Regions from separate parts of the Homo sapiens genome. Here regions 1, 3 and 4 are each reported to be linked to region 2. Evidence: microRNA targets listed by miRTarBase, many of them from high-throughput screens and not tested one by one. Region 2 holds a microRNA gene; each other region holds the end of a gene's coding sequence.

Evidence for each region. Region 2 holds the annotated microRNA hsa-miR-142-5p (CAUAAAGUAGAAAGCACUACU, at 2,903-2,923, opposite strand). A microRNA usually pairs through its seed, bases 2 to 8, with sites in the 3' UTR of a target mRNA and lowers its output. Matches are read on the target gene's strand: a 7mer-m8 pairs with bases 2 to 8, a 7mer-A1 pairs with bases 2 to 7 and ends in A, and an 8mer does both.
Region 1: miRTarBase lists ZFYVE21 as a target of hsa-miR-142-5p. Seed matches in the 3' UTR shown: 7mer-m8 at 3,171-3,177.
Region 3: miRTarBase lists RASEF as a target of hsa-miR-142-5p. Seed matches in the 3' UTR shown: 7mer-A1 at 3,162-3,168 and 7mer-A1 at 3,738-3,744.
Region 4: the mRNA of PTPDC1 is a reported target of hsa-miR-142-5p. Seed matches in the 3' UTR shown: 7mer-m8 at 755-761 and 7mer-A1 at 1,728-1,734.

What each region holds. Positions count from the first base shown.
Region 1 is chr14:103,732,425-103,736,774 of GRCh38, reverse strand. ZFYVE21 (zinc finger FYVE-type containing 21) reads right to left here. Exons shown (of 7, transcript NM_024071.4): 6 at 4,013-4,155; 7 at 3,111-3,792. The coding sequence ends at 3,757. PPP1R13B (protein phosphatase 1 regulatory subunit 13B) reads left to right here. Exons shown (of 17, transcript NM_015316.3): 16 at 573-772; 17 at 1,580-3,580. The coding sequence ends at 1,621. Among named protein-coding and RNA genes, the nearest start is that of ZFYVE21, 19 kb to the right of the region's middle.
Region 2 is chr17:58,328,381-58,332,790 of GRCh38, forward strand. MIR142 (microRNA 142) reads right to left here and starts at 2,938; the gene lies at 2,852-2,938. TSPOAP1 (TSPO associated protein 1) reads right to left here and starts at 415. Exons shown (of 32, transcript NM_004758.4): 1 at 1-415. The region is part of intron 2 of TSPOAP1-AS1 (TSPOAP1, SUPT4H1 and RNF43 antisense RNA 1); the gene reads left to right. It overlaps MIR142HG (MIR142 host genes), which reads right to left and starts at 4,140. Exons shown (of 1, transcript NR_186557.1): 1 at 2,508-4,140. RefSeq lists enhancers at 288-357, 888-1,057, 1,158-1,237, 3,028-3,167, 3,968-4,037 and a silencer at 4,148-4,410.
Region 3 is chr9:82,979,330-82,983,739 of GRCh38, reverse strand. RASEF (RAS and EF-hand domain containing) reads left to right here. Exons shown (of 17, transcript NM_152573.4): 17 at 958-4,150. The coding sequence ends at 1,063. Among named protein-coding and RNA genes, the nearest start is that of RASEF, 82 kb to the left of the region's middle.
Region 4 is chr9:94,107,290-94,111,699 of GRCh38, forward strand. It overlaps PTPDC1 (protein tyrosine phosphatase domain containing 1), which reads left to right. Exons shown (of 9, transcript NM_001253829.2): 9 at 539-2,564. The coding sequence ends at 655. Among named protein-coding and RNA genes, the nearest start is that of PTPDC1, 25 kb to the left of the region's middle.

The DNA.
Region 1 (4,350 bases), not on the chromosome of region 2:
TGGCAGGGCTAGGGGAGGCACAGCAGCCCCCAGGTGAGTCCCGCCAGTGTGAGGAGGAGGCTGCCGTCACAGTGGCACCACCACAGGGAAGGGAAGCTCCCCATGGTCACCACAACTGGGTCTCAGAAGCAGAGTGTCCCACAGAAGGGCCCTTTCTTGGGAACCCACAAGTAGCTGCTCAGTCAGGGCTCAGTTGTGTGTAGTTTGTTCATTACCATCCAAGAGCAGTCACAGCTGCTCTAGCTAGTGACTTTAGAAATCTGTTCTGGCTGTGATTGCTAAGCGTCACCTTAAGAACAGCACACTCTTGCCCTGGGGCTCAGGAGCTCGTTTGTCCTGTCTGTCCTGCAGGACTTAGAAAGGGCCGGCAGCAGGAGCAGCAGCTGGGCCGGGCAGGGGAGGTATCGGGTGGGGGCCCTAGTCTTCAATAGTGTCTCATCTCCCTCGCTGGCCTCTGTGGGGCCTGCTGAGAGCAGCCTCGGCAGCAGCACGACTGTGTCCTGTTCCTCGAGCAGGGTCCCTTGCTGCAGGCCACCCTCTGCTGAGGCCTGACCATTGCTCTCTGGCTCCAGGGGTGCAGGAAAAGCTGGGTGTGATGAACAAAGGTGTGGCGTATGCTCTGTGGGACTACGAGGCCCAGAACAGTGACGAGCTGTCCTTCCACGAAGGGGACGCCCTCACCATCCTGAGGCGCAAGGACGAAAGCGAGACTGAGTGGTGGTGGGCTCGCCTTGGAGACCGGGAGGGCTATGTGCCCAAAAACCTGCTGGGGGTGAGCACTCAGGTTACTTACTGGGAAACTAGCTGCCCGTGTCTCTGTACAGCATGCGGTCCTATCCTGCTGTGGGGCTGGGGAGGGAGGCTTCGCTTCTCTGAGCCTCAGCAGCCCCCTCTGTAGAGGGGGAGGTGCCTACTTGGCAGAGCTGGCATGAGGCTCAGGCAGGGCCCCAGGAGGTTCCCCCAGCCATGCTTATGCCATGGAGGCCCGTGCGGAGGCTGAGTGCCCCAGTGAGGGGCCGCTCAATGAGCTCGGTTCATGATGAACTTCACCAAGTGGCCCGGCTCAGCCCACCCACACTTTCCCCAATCTAGAAATCTCTGCAGCCTAGAAATTTCTCCAGTGGAGGGAGAGGTGGGAACGTGCAGGCTGCTAGCTCTGTGTTGGACTTGTGATTCCCTCAGTCCTCTGGCAGAGGGAGCTGCCTCTGCTCTCTTTGTGCCCTGCAGAGCTGCCAGGGGCTTGCTGTTGAGCCAACGTTCTTGGCCAGGCAAACACAGCAGGGAGCCAGGCAGAGACCCTTGCCCAGGGGAGCTTATGACCTTGAGAGCCACAGGCAGTCACAAGTCTTTAGGTGGCATGAAGTGTTGTGAGAAAAATAGGATATTCTGGGGGTACAAGGCACATTTTAAAGAGGGCTGGGTGGGTCTCAGTGTAGAGGTGCAGCTGAGCGTAGGCCTGAGGGACAAGGGTGCTGCACGGCTGTCCAGGGTGGCTGAGGTGAGGAGCAGGGGTCGGGTCTGGCTGGCCCTGCTCCCTGTGTGTGGCTTCCTGTCCTGACGCGGCTCCGTTGCTTCCCAGCTGTATCCACGGATCAAACCCCGACAGCGAACACTCGCCTGAACTTCCTTTTGGAGCACCGCATGGTCTTGCCAGCTACCAGGAGCCACTTAAGAGATTATTGTGCTGTTTTCCAGGAAAGCTGCAGCTAGAAAATGGTCTTAATGGTGCTCACTTTAGCAGACAGCGTCCACAATGTGAATCCTACAGTTTCCAGGTGAGGCCCTTTCTCCAGTTTGCCCATTAACTGGGAGAGGTACTTTCGCCTCCAAGGACTGAATTTTGCCAATTACTATAAATCCAAATAAATACCCACTTTCAAAACACCCACCCCTCTTGCCATTAAGAAGTCCCATAACCCCCGGTTGGTTGCCAGTGAAGACAGAAGCTCTTACTGACTTGGCCCCGAGGCCATCACCCCCTCCAGCAGTGAACACTGTCCGCCGCTGTGAGGCCTGCTCCCCTGCGACCGCCCTGCCCCCCGTCACCGAATCGGACACTCATCCTTTCTCACACTTCCCACACATGATCCTTCTTCCCTTCATCACCAAAGGAGCCTCTGTATGGAAACATGTCCAGTGTTGCTGCCCAGTGTGTATGCCTCCCAGTACCCACTCTGCTCGGCCGCCTTGGGGGTTCCGCTTCCTGTTCCAGTTCACCTAAAGGCTGATTGTGCAGGCCCAGCACTGTGGCTGGACTGCCGCGCCACGGGCACCAGGACCCCTAAGACCAAGTGACAACTGGGAGAGCCTCAGCATATACTCTTCTCCTCCGATCTCACAGCCTGTCATGCTGCTCAGTGTGGTTCTCACCCCTGCAAGCTCAAATTCAGTTCCCTGAATGGAGTCAGGTGCTGGAGGCCGTGGCAGCGGAGGGTGGTTGGGGTTGGGGCTGGGGGTGGACTGGTGTGAGGGCAGACCAGGGCCAGGTAGACGGGGCTGTTTGGTGCCTGAAGGATGGCAGACGCCTGGTGTCAGGAGGGGCCGCCACCAAGGAGCAGCAGCTGGGGCAGAGGAGCTGGGGTCAGGGGCCACCCCTCTCTGCCGATCTCCCTGCCTGGGCTGGCTGTGAGGCCACCTTTGTCCCAGGCCCAGCCTCAAGGCAAGGAGGGCGCTTCACTGAGGTGTGAATTGTACGTACAGGCTTTTTATATACCAAAAGTATTTTTTGACTAGACCATTCAAAGCTACCCGAACTATGTTGGAAATTTTTTTTTTCTCATTAAAATACAGGCCCTTAGGCTCTATTTTTCATGTATGAGTCGTGTGTAATTTATGTAAAAATGTGTGTACAGACTCACTGATGCAGCACTGTAGCCCATCACCTTGGAGCACTGACTGTACATAGTGTGGTGAAGAAAAGTGAACGCCCTTGTAGAGCAGCCCGACCACAGGAGCATGGCCGCTGCCAGCCCAGACGCTGCTGACGCTGTGTAAATGTGCACAATAAACCCGTCTCACCCCGGCGGCTGTGAGTCTTCTTTCTGGACCCAGACTGCGCTGTGGCACGAGGGTTCAGGTGATCTGGACACAGGAAGGCGAGGCCTTGTCCGTATGTTCAAAATAGTTTTTAATCATAAGCTTTATATACAAATTGCTGTACAGTCATCTTAATAAAGTGAAATAGTGAGTGAAAAGTACAAAACACAAAGCCCCCACGTTCCCCTTGGTGAAGTATCAAAGGATCACTCACAGCCCAGAAGCCCCAAATTAGTGACAAGGTAAGTGGACAAGTCTGTGAAACAGGCTAAGGCAAGTGCTGTAAACTGGCTATTAGAGGCGAACAGGCTCCACTGCAGACCAGAAGCCTGAGTTCCTACTGCCCAAACTGGTTCTGTGGAAGAATTAAATGAAATGAATATTGATGGGCCAGAACCTTCTAGTAGACCTGCGAACTCATAAAAATGGTATATATTATGCTAAAAATAGTTTAGCAGTAGTGTAGCTCAGTCTCTCCCACCCCCAATTAAGTATTGACAATACACAAATTCTAAAACATGAAGCTGTTTAAAGCATTAATAAACTGTGAACATATTGCACTAGATAAGTGAACACTCCTGTTTCTCCAAATACATGAGTGAGTTGCATTTCCCAGCACAAGCAGGATTAATCCCTGTGGTACGCAAGGAGCAGGCTCTGCTGTTCCAAGCGACTCAGTCCTGGTGACCACACGTACTCCAAGCTCAGCCCCACGTAGAGTTACTGGTCCCGAGATTCATAGAGGAGCTTGGCAGCCTGCAGATCAGACAAGATCAACACAGTGAGGCCTGCTTGGTCCTGTGCCTGGTGGAGCCAAGCCTGTGTGCATTTCAGGGGAGATGGCGTGGGCACCCCAGCTGAGGGGGAACAGGTTGTGGGGATAGGGGGCAAATGGCAGGACACAGAGCTTCCTCTGGGAAAGGCAAGCTTTTGTCTAAGCCAAAGGGCCCAGCCTCCCTGGCCTGGGCTCAGGTACCTTGTGCATGGCCACTAGCCACGCCACCGCCTGCCTCCTGCCCACAGTCACGTCCTCCACCACTGTCAGCTTCAGCTGGGTCACACCCTCCGTCCCCGGCACTGTATACTGCAGGAACATGCCTGTGGCCCGTGCGTTGCCTCCTGGAGGAGAGAGACGAGGTAAGACGGCCCAAAGGAGGCCCTGAGTGCCCAGGCGGCCACCAGCCCCAAGGCGGTGGCCAGCACATCCTAACCTTGTGCTGCTCCAAGAGTAGCCTGGCAGTGAGGGCTGGTGCTCAGGAGCACCCAGGGAACACCATCTCCTCAGGCCTCTGAGGGGAGACCCCAAGCTCACAG
Region 2 (4,410 bases):
TGTGTGTGTGTGTGTGGGTGTCTGTATTGCAGGGCTGTGGCAGTATGTGATGCTGTCCCTGGTTGTATCTGAGTGTGTCAGTGTCGTGCAGCTGTGTGCATCGGTGTCGTTGTGTGTCTGTCAGTGTCTGTGGGTCTGGCCGTCTGTCGCAACCCCTCAGCCCGGCCAGAGGCTTCAGGAGCTGCTGGGGGTGATCCCCAGTGGTCCGCTGTGGTCCTTTATCTCCGGCTCTGCTCTCTGCTGCTGCTCTTTCGCTTGCTGGGTGGCTGGGCTGGTCCTAAGGAGGCCTGGGTCGATGGGCTGCTTGCCTCATAGTCTCAGCCCCTGCTGGCCTCTGCTCTGGGGACTGCAGGGGTCCCTTACAGTCCAGGAGCCTCGAGATGGTGGGCTCCGAGGAGGGCTGAGCCTCAGAATTGGGTGGGGGGGTGAGCCGGGAAGAGCCAGCCCTCCCCTCCTCCTCCTCCTCCTCCCCTCCCACCCACCAATAGGAAGTCGGCTGCTGGTTTCCATGGTGATGGCGCTGGACTGGTGGGCTGAACCGGCTGACAGGGTCGGGGACAGAAGGAAGAGCAGGTTTCTCACGGCATGTCAGCCCAGGGCTCCCACATGTGGCCTCCCACCCTCATCTTCACACATTCTCACACCTTCCGGAGTACAGAGGCGAGTGGGGTGCAGATGGTCCTCCCTACATCGGGTGAGACTGATAGAGACAGAACGGGGGAGGGTATGACAGAGATCCAGCCACAGAGAAGGGCAGAACTAGAAAAGATGGGACTTGAGATGAAACAAAGAGAGAGACAGAAACCAAGAGAAAGAAACCGGGAAGACAAGCAAAGAGACAGGTAGAAATAGACGGAGAATTCCTTCTGCTTCCTCCTGGCAGATTGCACTTGGGGGGCAACCTGGCTGTCCCAGGCCACCAGGGAAGCCCACATGGCCTGTTGGGTTGGCTTTGTCCCGAATTGCCTGGAAGTTCATCTTCTGTCTAGCCTTAGATCTTGTTGCTAAATAATTTGGGGGACAAGGACGTGAGAATCCCCTCAGCCAGGAGTCAGTCTATATGCAGTGGCAGGGGTCTAGACAGAGTCCCCAGAGCCAGGGGTGTTGGGAGAAGCCCCGAGAGGCAGCCCCTCTCCACTCTGAACCCGGGACTCATTAGGCAAGCCAGTTTCAGCCAAGGTCGGGGGCCCTCGTGTGGCACCCCCACAGAATAGCAGCGGTGATACTGAACCCTAGAGCCCCTGACTGTGGGCTCCACCCAGGCAAGAGCCAATGGAACTGGAGGTAGGGGGTGCATGGGGAGGAGTGGACATCTTCACTTCCCTAAAGCAGTGTGTAGGTCAACACGCACGCCACTGCATGATGTGTTGCTGTTTAGGTCAGAGTATATATGCATGCCATTATGCGCATGCGTGTGTATAGTATGCATCTATAGAATAGACATTATCTATTTCTGTATATGTGAAGGGGCCATTGTGTGTATATATGTGTGTGCTATTATGTGTCTATGAGTCACATAATAAAACGTAACAAAAACACATTGGGTGTATCTGTATGTATGTTTCTGTGTCATTGCATCTATGTTTGTTTGCCACTGTGTCTATGTGTGTGCTGTTATGTGCATGGGAGGCTATCATTGCATGAGTTTATAAATTACAACACATCATGATATATATAGATATGGATGCTACTATATGGCACAATGTAGTAATTGATTACACAATATATGACATGCTCATATCGTCATGTAAATATGCATAATGACATGGTTTGATTTATATATATATATCACCATGTATCTATGTATTCTATATTTATCATGATATATGAACATGTCTCTATCTATGTATGTGTATGGAGCCACCGTGTTTATTATGCAAATGTCACTGTATGTGTGTGCTCTTCTATGTGTAAGACACGCCCTATGTTTCTATCATTGCATGTGTGTACTACTGAATATGTATGTGCCCTGGGTGTGTGTAATCCCTGTGTGTGTCATGCCAGTCATGTCACATGTGTCTGTGTGTGTGTTACTGGCACACTGAATGGGGCCTCTGTGTGTAAATGCATTTGCATCTCAGTGTGTGCTTTGTATATGAGTGTCTGTGCCCTTGTCTAAGATGCTGTGTATGTGCCACAGTGGATTTTGCCCAATTTTTATATGACCTAGGACCCCCTAGACTTTCTTAGATTAAAACTGGATGTAGGCAGCTTTCAGTTTGGGTATGTAGGGGGGCAGGATAGGGCCAGAGCTAGGGTAGAAGGTGAGAGGATGCCTTACATCCCTGCCCCTTTCTGCAGATGGCCCAGGCCCTTCTCTCCTCCGGCTGTGGCCTGGCCAGGCCCAGAGCCCTCTTCTGATCTCATAGGCAGGGCCAAACCCGTATCTTCTGGAGGAGCGACAGAGGTTCTCCCTCCCAGCCCTTCTGTGCGCCCATACTGTCCATGTGCCTGCCGCCCGCATTCAGCTCCCCACCCCAGCAACAGAGTCTCAGACAAAAGAGAAGCACAGTCCAGTCTTTATTAGCATTGGGTCCCTGGTCCCACCACCCATTCCCCTCCACGTACCATCCCTTCCCACCCCTTCCTCGTCCTTGACGCTGCGGCTGCATCAGGGTTCCACATGTCCAGCCCTCCCCGCCCCCAAAGACTGCAGGGCAGCAGAGGAGCTGCTGTGGCCTTTCCCCAGCTGTCCGGAACCAGGAAGGGCAGGAAAGCCATGGAGGCCTTTCAGGCATCTGGGCAGGGTAGGGAGGGGCCGTAAGGTGCTCACCTGTCACACGAGGTCCCCGAGCGCCGAGGAAGATGGTGGCGGGCAGCGGGCGGCAGCAGTGGCGTGATCTCCGAAGCCCACAGTACACTCATCCATAAAGTAGGAAACACTACACCCTCCAGTGCTGTTAGTAGTGCTTTCTACTTTATGGGTGACTGCACTGTCTGTCTGTCCGTCGGCGTGTACTCTTCAGGCTGCCCAGGCCTCCTGACTCCTGCTCCAAGAGCCCCCCAGCCCTCCTTGTGGCTTCCTAAGATCCCCCCAACCCTGCCAGGGCCCCCCGAGGGCCCGCCCTGGGCCTTGTGGGCGGTGACTCAGCATGGCGCCAGACTTGCCTCCTCTACCTCCCTCCCCCACTTCCTCTTCAGTTCCCTCTTCCCTTCCCCCTAAAGGCTCCACCCCATCCCCCCAGTTTCAGAGACACTCAGGTAGAGACTAGGGCCTCTGGAGGCCTCACCTTCAGTTCTGTGAACCCCTGGCTGGCCGCTTCCAGCCACGCTAGCCACCCTCCAGCGTCCAAATGAGGCAGCCACAGCTCCCCTGCCAAGGTCTTGGTCTCCAGTCCACCCCAACCGTGAGGTCCTGACTGCCCAGAGCCTCAGTCCCCACCCTTCAGCCTCCCCACCAGCCCAAGATCCTGACCCCCCAGGGCCTAAGTCCCCAGCCTCCCCAACAGCCCAGGGTCCTGACCCCCCAGGGCCTCAGGCCCTGGCCTCCCCACCAGCCCAAGGTCTTGAACACACCAGGGCCTCAATTCCCAGCCTCCCCACCAGCTCAAGGTCCTGACTCCCCCAGAGCCTCAGTCCCAGCCTCCATAGCAGCCCAAGGTCCTGACCCCCCAGGGCCTCAGTCCCCAGCCACTCCACCAGCCCCAAAGTCCTGACTCCCCAGAGCCTTGATTCTCGGCCTCCCCACCAGCCCAAAGTCCTGACTCCCTCACTGCCCTGCTGTTCCCCTGGCAGGAGCCCAAGGCTATCCCAACAAAAATGGTGGCCATGTTGGGCGGAGGAAGAGGCTGGCGCCCCTTGAGACACTGGTCCCACTTCTCAGCCTCTGCGTACCCTCTGCCATCCCCGCCTTACTCTCCAGCCCTCCTCCTTGGACACCTCTTTCCCCGCCTGGGGTCCCGGAGCCATTTTACCTTCCTTCACTAGAGAGGGTTTCAAGGCGCTTTGCCCTGAGCTTCCCGCATGGGGCTTGCACCCAAGCTCCTCGACACCCCCAACGCGCCTCCACCCAGACCAGCAGCCCAAGCCCCTAGAGGCCCCGAGCTGAGGAGCCCCAGTTGGGGCAGCAGTGAAGGTCCGGATCCTTACCTGAGGCTGCAGGGCGGAGGAGAGCTCGCCCTGTGCTCCAGGCTCCGAAGTGGGGTTCCCTTCAGGGAGGGCAGGGCTTATAACCCCGAGGCCACGTGGGCCAGATCTCAGGGCGCCCAACGGTCTCAGAGCGCGCCCCGCCCCCGCCCGCAGGGGATGAGCGCCCTCCCTCCCTCCCTCCCTGGGGAGGACAGACTGACAGGAAACAGAAGGGGGTGGGCCCGCGGGAGGGCTGGGGACCCTCTCTCATGCCCTGGGCAGGTGGCTTCCGGCCCCAGCTGCCCTTCCCCCCGTGGCACCAGCTCCAAGGGATGGCTCAAG
Region 3 (4,410 bases), not on the chromosome of region 2:
CCCGCATTATAAACACTTGGGTTTAGAAGCCACAGAATACCATTTCCTCCATATTCTATTGGTCAAAGCAGGTGGAGAACCAGCTCTGACCAAGAGGGTAGGGGATCAAACCTTCACCTCTTGATGGGAGAGGCATCAGGCACTGACAAGGAAGGGCAGAATTATTTGGGGCCATCTTAGGGAGGCACTCATCTCGCTGGCAGAGATAGCCGTTCAGCTTGTCTAAGGTGAGACTTCTGGTCTTCATATTTCACAAGCATCCCCAGTGGCTACACCTGGAAGGATACTTCCTTAGGGGGTTTTCATAAGATCTTGGAGAGTAAGACATTTTTTCGTGAGTCTTGCCTCTAGCAGTTAATACTGGAAGAAGCTTACGATGACAGAAAGGGATGGTGGTAAATCCATTGTTACCTCCATGATCATGTATAATTAAAGAACGGTTATAAAATCACCATTGCTTTTGTTAAGCTCAGCAACCATTACATGAAGCTGGAAACCTGGTTCCAGAGTGTTAAGGAGCAAGCTGTGTGTATCGCAGGTTCTGCAGCATCCTGAAACCTCAGGAGAGAGTGAGGGGAGAAGGGTGTGTGTGTGTGTGTGTGTGTGTGTGTGTGTGTGTGTGTGTGTGTGTGGCCTGGTACTCAGAAAACAGGTGCTGGAGCCAGCCTGTGTGGTTTTAATCCCACTTCTGTAGTCATGTGACCTAAGGGAACTGTCTTAACCTCTTTTTGCCCTCATTTCCTCACATACAAAATGGGGCACAGCAAATTTATATGGTTCTTATGAAGATTAAGTCAAGACCTATAAAGCATTAAAACAATGTCTATAAGGCCGTGCAGACACTCAGCATGGCTATTTTTATTTCTACAGAACCATCTGTGGCTTAGTTTTTATACCTCAGTAATCCTCTCTCTCTCTCTCTCTCTCTCTCTCTGTCTCTCTCTATCTCTGTCTCAGAGAAGTGAAAAAGAGAACTGACAAGGATGACAGCAGATCCATTACCAATCTAACCGGGACCAATTCCAAAAAGTCACCACAGATGAAGAATTGTTGCAATGGCTAAATCCCAAACATCCTTGGCCTGTGAAGTCTTCATTTCCAGAATACTGAATTTGTGTGACTTATTTGGCTCTTAACAGAGTGGCACATCCTACTGACACTGTCCTATGGAGAGTTACAGTGCAGGAAACCTGAACCCAGCTCTCAGGTCCCTCTGGAACTTTGGCTCTTCTTTGTTTTGTCTCAGTGAGTGATTTGGGCCCTCTGGCTAAATAGACTAGTCATGTCCTTACAGGTCTTAAAAGATAACATGTAAATGTTTTTAAAATGGTAAAAAAAAAGAAAAGAAAAGAAATCACATGCTCAGATCAAAGCTGTAGAGGAAACTGACATAATTAGATTCATGTGGTAGCTGAATTAGGTTACCCACAAAGTCAGCATTTAAATATTTGATACTAAAGTTCTAGTAAGAAGGGATTCTCATCCTAGCTTTGCTGTTAACTGGCCTTGTGACCTTGGACATGTCACAAGCCCATGTCGGATCTGTTTCTTCATCTGTAAAATGTGCAGCTTGCCCTCAAAGGCCTTGCAGCCCTTGGCACCTCAGATTCTGTGGGAAGCAGTAGGACAGAGAGTGTGGTGGCCCACAGTTAATAATAGAACTATGGTTATTCCTGCTTTTTAATATTGGAGTATTGATTTTTCTCACTTCTGAAATAAGGACAGAATTTGATTAAAAAATGGAAACAGAAATATCTATTTTTTATGTATAAAGAAACATGTTTGAGACAAAAATAGTTGTATATAAAAGGATATTTCATAATCTCAGAATAGTTACAAAGCTCACTGCTTGAATTTGGTGTTAAAAATTCTAATGGAAACATGTAAAGCCACATACTACTGAAAGCACAATGCCCAGGAAAGTTGTCACTCTTCACTTAAGGGAGTGGTTGCCAGGGGCTGAGAAAGGGAGGATGGGGAGTGACTGCTAATAGGTATGTGGTTTCTTTGGGCGATGATGAGAATGTTCTGGAATTGGAATAGTGGTGATAGTTGTATAACTGTTTGAATGTACTAGGAACCACTGAATTGTATACTTTGAAAGGGTGAATTTTATGGTTGTGAATTATCTCACTAAAAAAAATGCTAGTACTTAGAGTGATGTAACATTTTGCAAAATTTTCATTTTCGTATCCCTGCTGATTTCAAACCTTCCCATGGTTTAGAAGCATAACCTGTAATGTAATGCAAGTCCCCTAACTCCCTGGTTGCTAACATTAACTTCCTTAAGTAATAATCAATGAAAGAAATTCTATGCATGGTTTTGAAATAATATCCTTGAAAGAGGAATCACCATTAGGAAAGGTGAGTCAGGGTCCTTTGTTTAATGTGACTAGTGGCTCATCATCACCAGTGACCTGGTTGGGCCTACTCTCCTTCCAGAACCTGCATTGCTTCCCAGACCTCCCCACTGAGATGCCTCTAAGAGCCAAAGGAGTCAACACTTGAGCCTAGGGTGGGCTACAACAAAAGATTCTAATTTACCTTGCTTCATCTAGGTCCAGGCCCCAAGTAGCTTGCTGAAGGAACTTAAAAAGTAGCTGTTATTTATTGTATTGTATAAGCTAAAAACATTTATTTTTGTTGAATCGAAACAATTCCATGTAGCAATCTTTTTTCTGTTCACGGTGTTTGTGATAGAACCTTAAATTCCGCAAGCATCAGTTTTTTGAAAAAATGGGAATTGACCGGATAGTTACAGGCAAAGATTATAAATAGCTACAACATCATTTAACTTTTATAAACATGCCTTCTCTCTATTGAAGACATCTGATATTTTTGCTGGAAAGTTGGATCTATCCTCAGTAACTCTGCCATGAATTCCTGTTTCCTGGTTCCAGAAAAAGAAAAGATTACATTTCTGATCATAAAGAATGTCTTGCATATGGGAAATTTTTCAAAATAAGGGGGGTATTATTTATGTGGCATGGGAAAACTTTTGCCATGGCTGTTTGTCTTAGTGGCATCTTTTGATGACATTGGATCAGATATATGTAGATGCTGATATATGGGACACATGTTTAGGTTTTGGTGCAGTTGCACAAAACTGTGTTAGTTTATATGTTACTGTGTTGCCTTTATTTATTCTCTCCAAAGTGTCTCTTTATATTTGTTTTACAATCTGTGAAAGAGTATACCATAATACAGAAGTATTTTCATAGTCTTTACCTCTGGATTGTCCTGTCAGTATAGCCACGTTGATGAGATTACACCAGTGCCTTTGATGGTCAACCAATCATCTTTAAGTATTTGAGCCCTGATAAATATTTTGGTAACATAATCCAAATTAGAGACTTAGAGCTCTGGTTAGCAATCATGTTTAAAGAGAAGCTTCTTAAAGCTCTGTATGCTGGGAGATTCATGATTATTACCAACGTTTTGATTTCATGAAGGTGTTCTCAAATTTAAAGCACATTTTCAGTAAGAACAAAAATATTTAATGTTTTTATCTTAGACTTGATACATTTGCATATTACTATGGAAGTTATTCACCTTGTCCCTGTTTTTCTTTAAGATATTTTAAAATCATAGTTATACTACAGTCCTTTTTTAAATGTATCCTGATACATTGTAAAATATTTTAATTTCATTGTGGAAAATAATGTTGGATAAGGAGATATTTTTCACTGTTAACTTTTAGCCCATGCATTTTCATAATTTATTTTTTTCACTTGCTGCTTTATATGACATATGTGACATTTGATTATTTAACACTTGATGTGATCTGCATAAACCCAAGTTGCACAACCCTCCTGCTGAAGATAAAATTGAGGTTAAAGATAAAGATTTATTTTCATATTTGTACAGTGATCGGCTTCAGTGATGGTTTTTGTGGGCATTTATTGTGTGTGTGTAAGAAATTTCATATGTATATATTAAGTAGGCCTCTGAGTATTGAATAATTGTTTTATGATTTTGATTTATATGGTTTACATTTTCATTGTGTGGGCCATATTTCGTTTATACTGTTTATTTCTCTTCAAACCTTAATAATTATACCATAAAGTGTAATTTTTATAGCAATGCAAATGTCTAAGGAACTACAAATATTTTCTACGTTGTAAATTCAATAAAGCTTGCTTCCTTTGGCCTTTTGAGTGTTTCCTTCAGCTTTACTGCAGATATCCCTGAAGTAATTTTAATTCTAGGATGTGTCTGCCTGAAACCATACCTCTAAAACACTTGTCTTTTCTGGCCATGGCAAGCCGAGTGTTGGGAGAGAAGAATGCACGCCTGGTATTCAGTGCTGTGGCACAGACAAGTCATCCTGGCCAACAGGGCAGCAGGTAGACCAGCTTGGGACAGGACAGCCAGGAATAGTGAGGCCTCTGTAGAAGAATGTCAGTGTTC
Region 4 (4,410 bases), not on the chromosome of region 2:
CTCATAGATACGCTATCCTATGAAGGTGGGTATCATTATCTCTGTTTTACAAAGGAGGAGATCAAGGTCCAGAGAGGTTGGGTATGAGATGAGGACATGTAGCTGGCAGGTGGGGAGCTGGGCTTCTATTCAGGTCACTCTGACCCTGTCCAGAGTGGCCGTAGGGCCTCTCAGCAGGACGTATACAGCTGATGTGCTGTTTTAATATGGGAAACTTTTCTCTTATACCATCAATGATTAGTCTCAAAAAATTCACTTCACACCCACTGTTGACTTGCTTCATGACTGGGTGTATATAATTAGACTAAATATCCAGGCACTAGATTTAATTTTGGGGTTTTCATTCATAAGTTTGATATTGACATGGTTGGCAGTTCTAATAGTCTTTCAAATAAAATGTGTGAAATTTATTATGTGTATTTTATATAGAGTTTTGTTTGTAAGTCTGTTTTTTTTCTCCACCCCCTCCTTCTCTCAAAATAGAAACTAGTTCAAATTCTTGTTACAGTGTCCTGAATATAAATTTCTTTGTCACCAGGTTAATTTTGATTCTGAAAATGGACCAACAGTTTACAACACCCTGAAGAAAATATTTAAGCACACGCTGGAAGAAAAAAGAAAAATGACAAAAGATGGCCCTAAGCCTGGCCTCTAGCTTTCACTCGTGGTGAATATTTCAGACCTAAAGATCCAGATAGTATCTCTGTTCATATGTGAATAAGTTGAAGATTGTGGGGCTACTTTTTCTCATAGCACTTTATTTTGAATGTTGTTAGTTTGTGCTGAGAATGGTCGTCCGTATTTGAACCAATTATTTATTTTAAAATATATTTAAGCTACATTTTTGTTTTGAAAAATTGCCATAAATTTGGTGCCACTTTCTTTTATTTATTTGACTGAGTTAATATTATTGTATTAACATTTTAAGTATATGGTGTTTACATTCTTATTTCTTTTGACATTTTGGAAATAATCATAACTTGTCTTTCCAAAATAACCATTTTCTTGATGGAACTCTTCCTAGAGTTTTTACCAAATAGCTAACTTTAGTAGTAAAACCTCATTGTGTATCCATTCCCCCACAGATGAACTAAGAAAGTCACCAAGTGTCTTAAGCTGTTTTATATTTGTTACGAAGAAGGCTATTGCTACAATATTTTTAAAGGTTTCTTTTTTAACTTTGAAATTTTTTGTTTTTCCTTTTCTTTTTATAAATGTAACAGAGGGTTTCAAAGCATATTATTTTTCAGAGAGATTTAGTTTTACTTTAATGGAGTGACTGTGAAGTGGTTGGGATTTTTTGCTTGTAGAAAGTAGACTTGCTCTTTGTCAGATTTCCAAACAACCTTGCCAGCCTTGGCTGTCAAAAGGAGGCAGGAGCAGTTCTCAACACACCAAGCCTTATTCCCACTCCCTTGGGTTGCTGCTGAGCCAAATAGCATCTTTACAGAGGAAGTGGGATCAGAGGCAGGAAGTGTGGAAAGTTGCTAAGAAGCAGGGCTTGCCTCTGTCCTCCCGGGGACTCCACAGGGATATTCGTGCAGGGCAGGGGCTCTGTGCCAGCCCTGCTCTCTCAGATGCCACAGCCACTCTGCAGAGGTGACTCTTGGAGCTGGAGGAAGTCAAAACTGGGCCACTGTTTGTACTGATGGTGTATTAGCATGAGCAGCGTGGCCCTGGCCCCACACTCCCAAATCTGCCACTCCATAGACCCACTTGCCTCAAGGCTTTATATTTGGCTGCTTTCTTACAATGAGAATTAAGATTTTTAAACTGAAGTTGACCATACAGGTTGCATTAGCCCTAACTGGCTTCATGTAAGAAGGGTGACTGCCTAAACTAGTTCCTTGTAAGCTGAACCATCAATTATCAGTTGAAGCCATACTTTTATTTAAATTAATATACGTAGATACCAGAGGCCAAGCCACAGAGAGGATAATAGTTCTTCCCAATAAAGGTGATATTAATCAGACTAATTTCGAACTAAAGAAGTTACTGCTTAAAGACGGAATTTCAGGGGAAGCAAGACTCATTTAGAACAAATGAAATTTCTCCAGTCCTACATTTCTGAATTGACTTCTAGCACATCAAAAATATTTCAGTCATTATCAGTCTCATTAACTGAAATGCCAAATGCTAAATGCAGTGTTCTTTCACACTGTTTTAATTTTCTTGGGAAATTGAGTCCAGTGGATGTTAATGGAGTGGGTTGCCCATCCCTGAAATGTCTTATTTTCAAGTGCCTGGCCTGGGAAAGAAGGGGAAGAAACAATTGCATTATATCCAAAGATACACTATAAAAATAGAGTTTTTACCAAAAAAAGATGTTTGTTCTCATCTCAGTAGGCCTCATTTGGGCAAGTGACCCACAGGTCTTTTGGCGAGTTTGCTATTTGCCTGTTGAAATACTTGTTTCAACTTAGAGAACAGTTATGATGTGACCATAGCATGGCACAACTAAAAATCTAAGCCTGAAACCTGAAAAAAGAGATATGACAAGGGAAATTAATCAGGCTATACATAAGTATTGTATTTATTTGAATAAAAATAAAAAGAGCAACCCATAATCCTAGTCCTGTACTTCTTTACCTTGATGCTCTAGGACATCTGATGATAAAGACAAGGTTTTGTCTTAGATTATCCTAATAGGCAGATTGAGTTGTCGGCTGATTCAGTGAGCCAAGCTCTAGTTAGTGCAGACTCCTTCCATCAGTTCAGCATGACCAAACACTGGGGGGTTGGGATAGGTGAGTTCTAAGAGGAATAGCTGGGGAAAATCTCCAAGCTGACAAGATTCCTAACTTCCCATATTTGGATGAGGAGTTCTTTGTAGCCCAGAGGACAGAAATCTCACATATTGGGAGAAGTGATAAGGTTGAAAAATTCAGTTCAACAGAAATAGGAAGGTTAAGGGCACACACATATTAAGAACTTACCATGGGCCAGCCGTATCCATTACCTCACTGAATTATCTTGACAGAAGTCTTTTTTATTTCATTTATTTATATATATTTTTTTGAGACGGGGGTCTCGCTCCGTAGCCCAAGCTGGAATGCAGTGGCATGATCTTGGCTGACTGCAACCTCCGCTCCCAGCCTGAAGCCATCCTCCCACCTCAGCTTCCTGAGTAGCTGGGACTACAGGCACATGCAATCACATCTGGCTAATTTTTTGTTTTTTTGTTTTTTTGGTATTTTTTGTAGAGATAGGGTTTCACCATGTTACCCAGGCTTGTCTTGAACTCCTGAGCTCAAGTGATCCTCCCACCTCGGCCTCCCAGAGTGCTGGGATTACAGGTGTGAGCCACCGCACCTGGCCTCAGAAGTCTTAATCATAACTGTGTGACGTGAGATGTGGAGTCCAATGGACCCCGTGCTGTGCCCTCCTCTCTGCTCATGTTACCTGCCTATAGGACTCTTAACCTGGCAAAGCTGCCCGTCAAAGTGCCTTCTCAGGGACCTTGAGGTCCCTTTAGCACTAAATTTTATGATGGCATTAAGAGAACACTGTGCTGTCCATAACTTAGTGAAAATATCACACATCTGTCCTGGAAAAGGCTGAACCAGCTCTATTATTATCCTATGATGTTCTCTAGTATATCACACTTAGAGGAAGTACATGATTTCTTGCCACTGTTGCCTTTTCTTACTTCAGAGAGCTTACTAATGCCCTTTGAGACAAATTGCTGCTGGTGGTAGAGCTCGCTTCATTTATTTATGTAACTCAGAAAATCTGTGCTGAGTTACTTAGTCATATCTTCATCCAGCTTGCCAGTCTTATCTGAGAAAAAGTACTTGCTTCATCGTTCTGGATTCCATGAAAACCACCATATATCATAATTCAACAGAGGTAAAGTGTCTCTATTTTCTCTTAAATGGAGAATGCTTGCTGATATGATTGGGTGCTATTTCAGGCTAGTCTCCACATGTCCGAAAAAATATCCAGGGACAGTGTAATGTAGATAGAATGCAAGCCCCAAGTTCTTGACATCTGACAGCCCCATGTAATTTGGGGGGTCAATTTAAAAATGACAGCTTACTCATAGGATCTTTATTATTATTCCAAATTAGCAAGCATTAATATATTTTCAGTGCAGGTAAATCAAGAACAATGTTCTCTTTGATGCTTTTTATGAATGGCACAAGATTAGCATGTTACCTAAGAGAGCTTTTCTCAATGCTAGATGGCTGCAAATTGTTTATAGATAAAGTAGCAGGAGAAAAATTCAACAAAATCCTGTTTCTCAGTGGGTCATTATTTTTTTAGTTATGCTTTTAGGCATGAGCTAATCTCTGATTACCTCAACACTGACAATAAAACTGATTTATAAATAATCACAATGGAACCATTCAGTATTGGAGCTTGACAAGCCTTTGTTCAAAGCCCTTCAGTCACTAAAAATAATGTCCC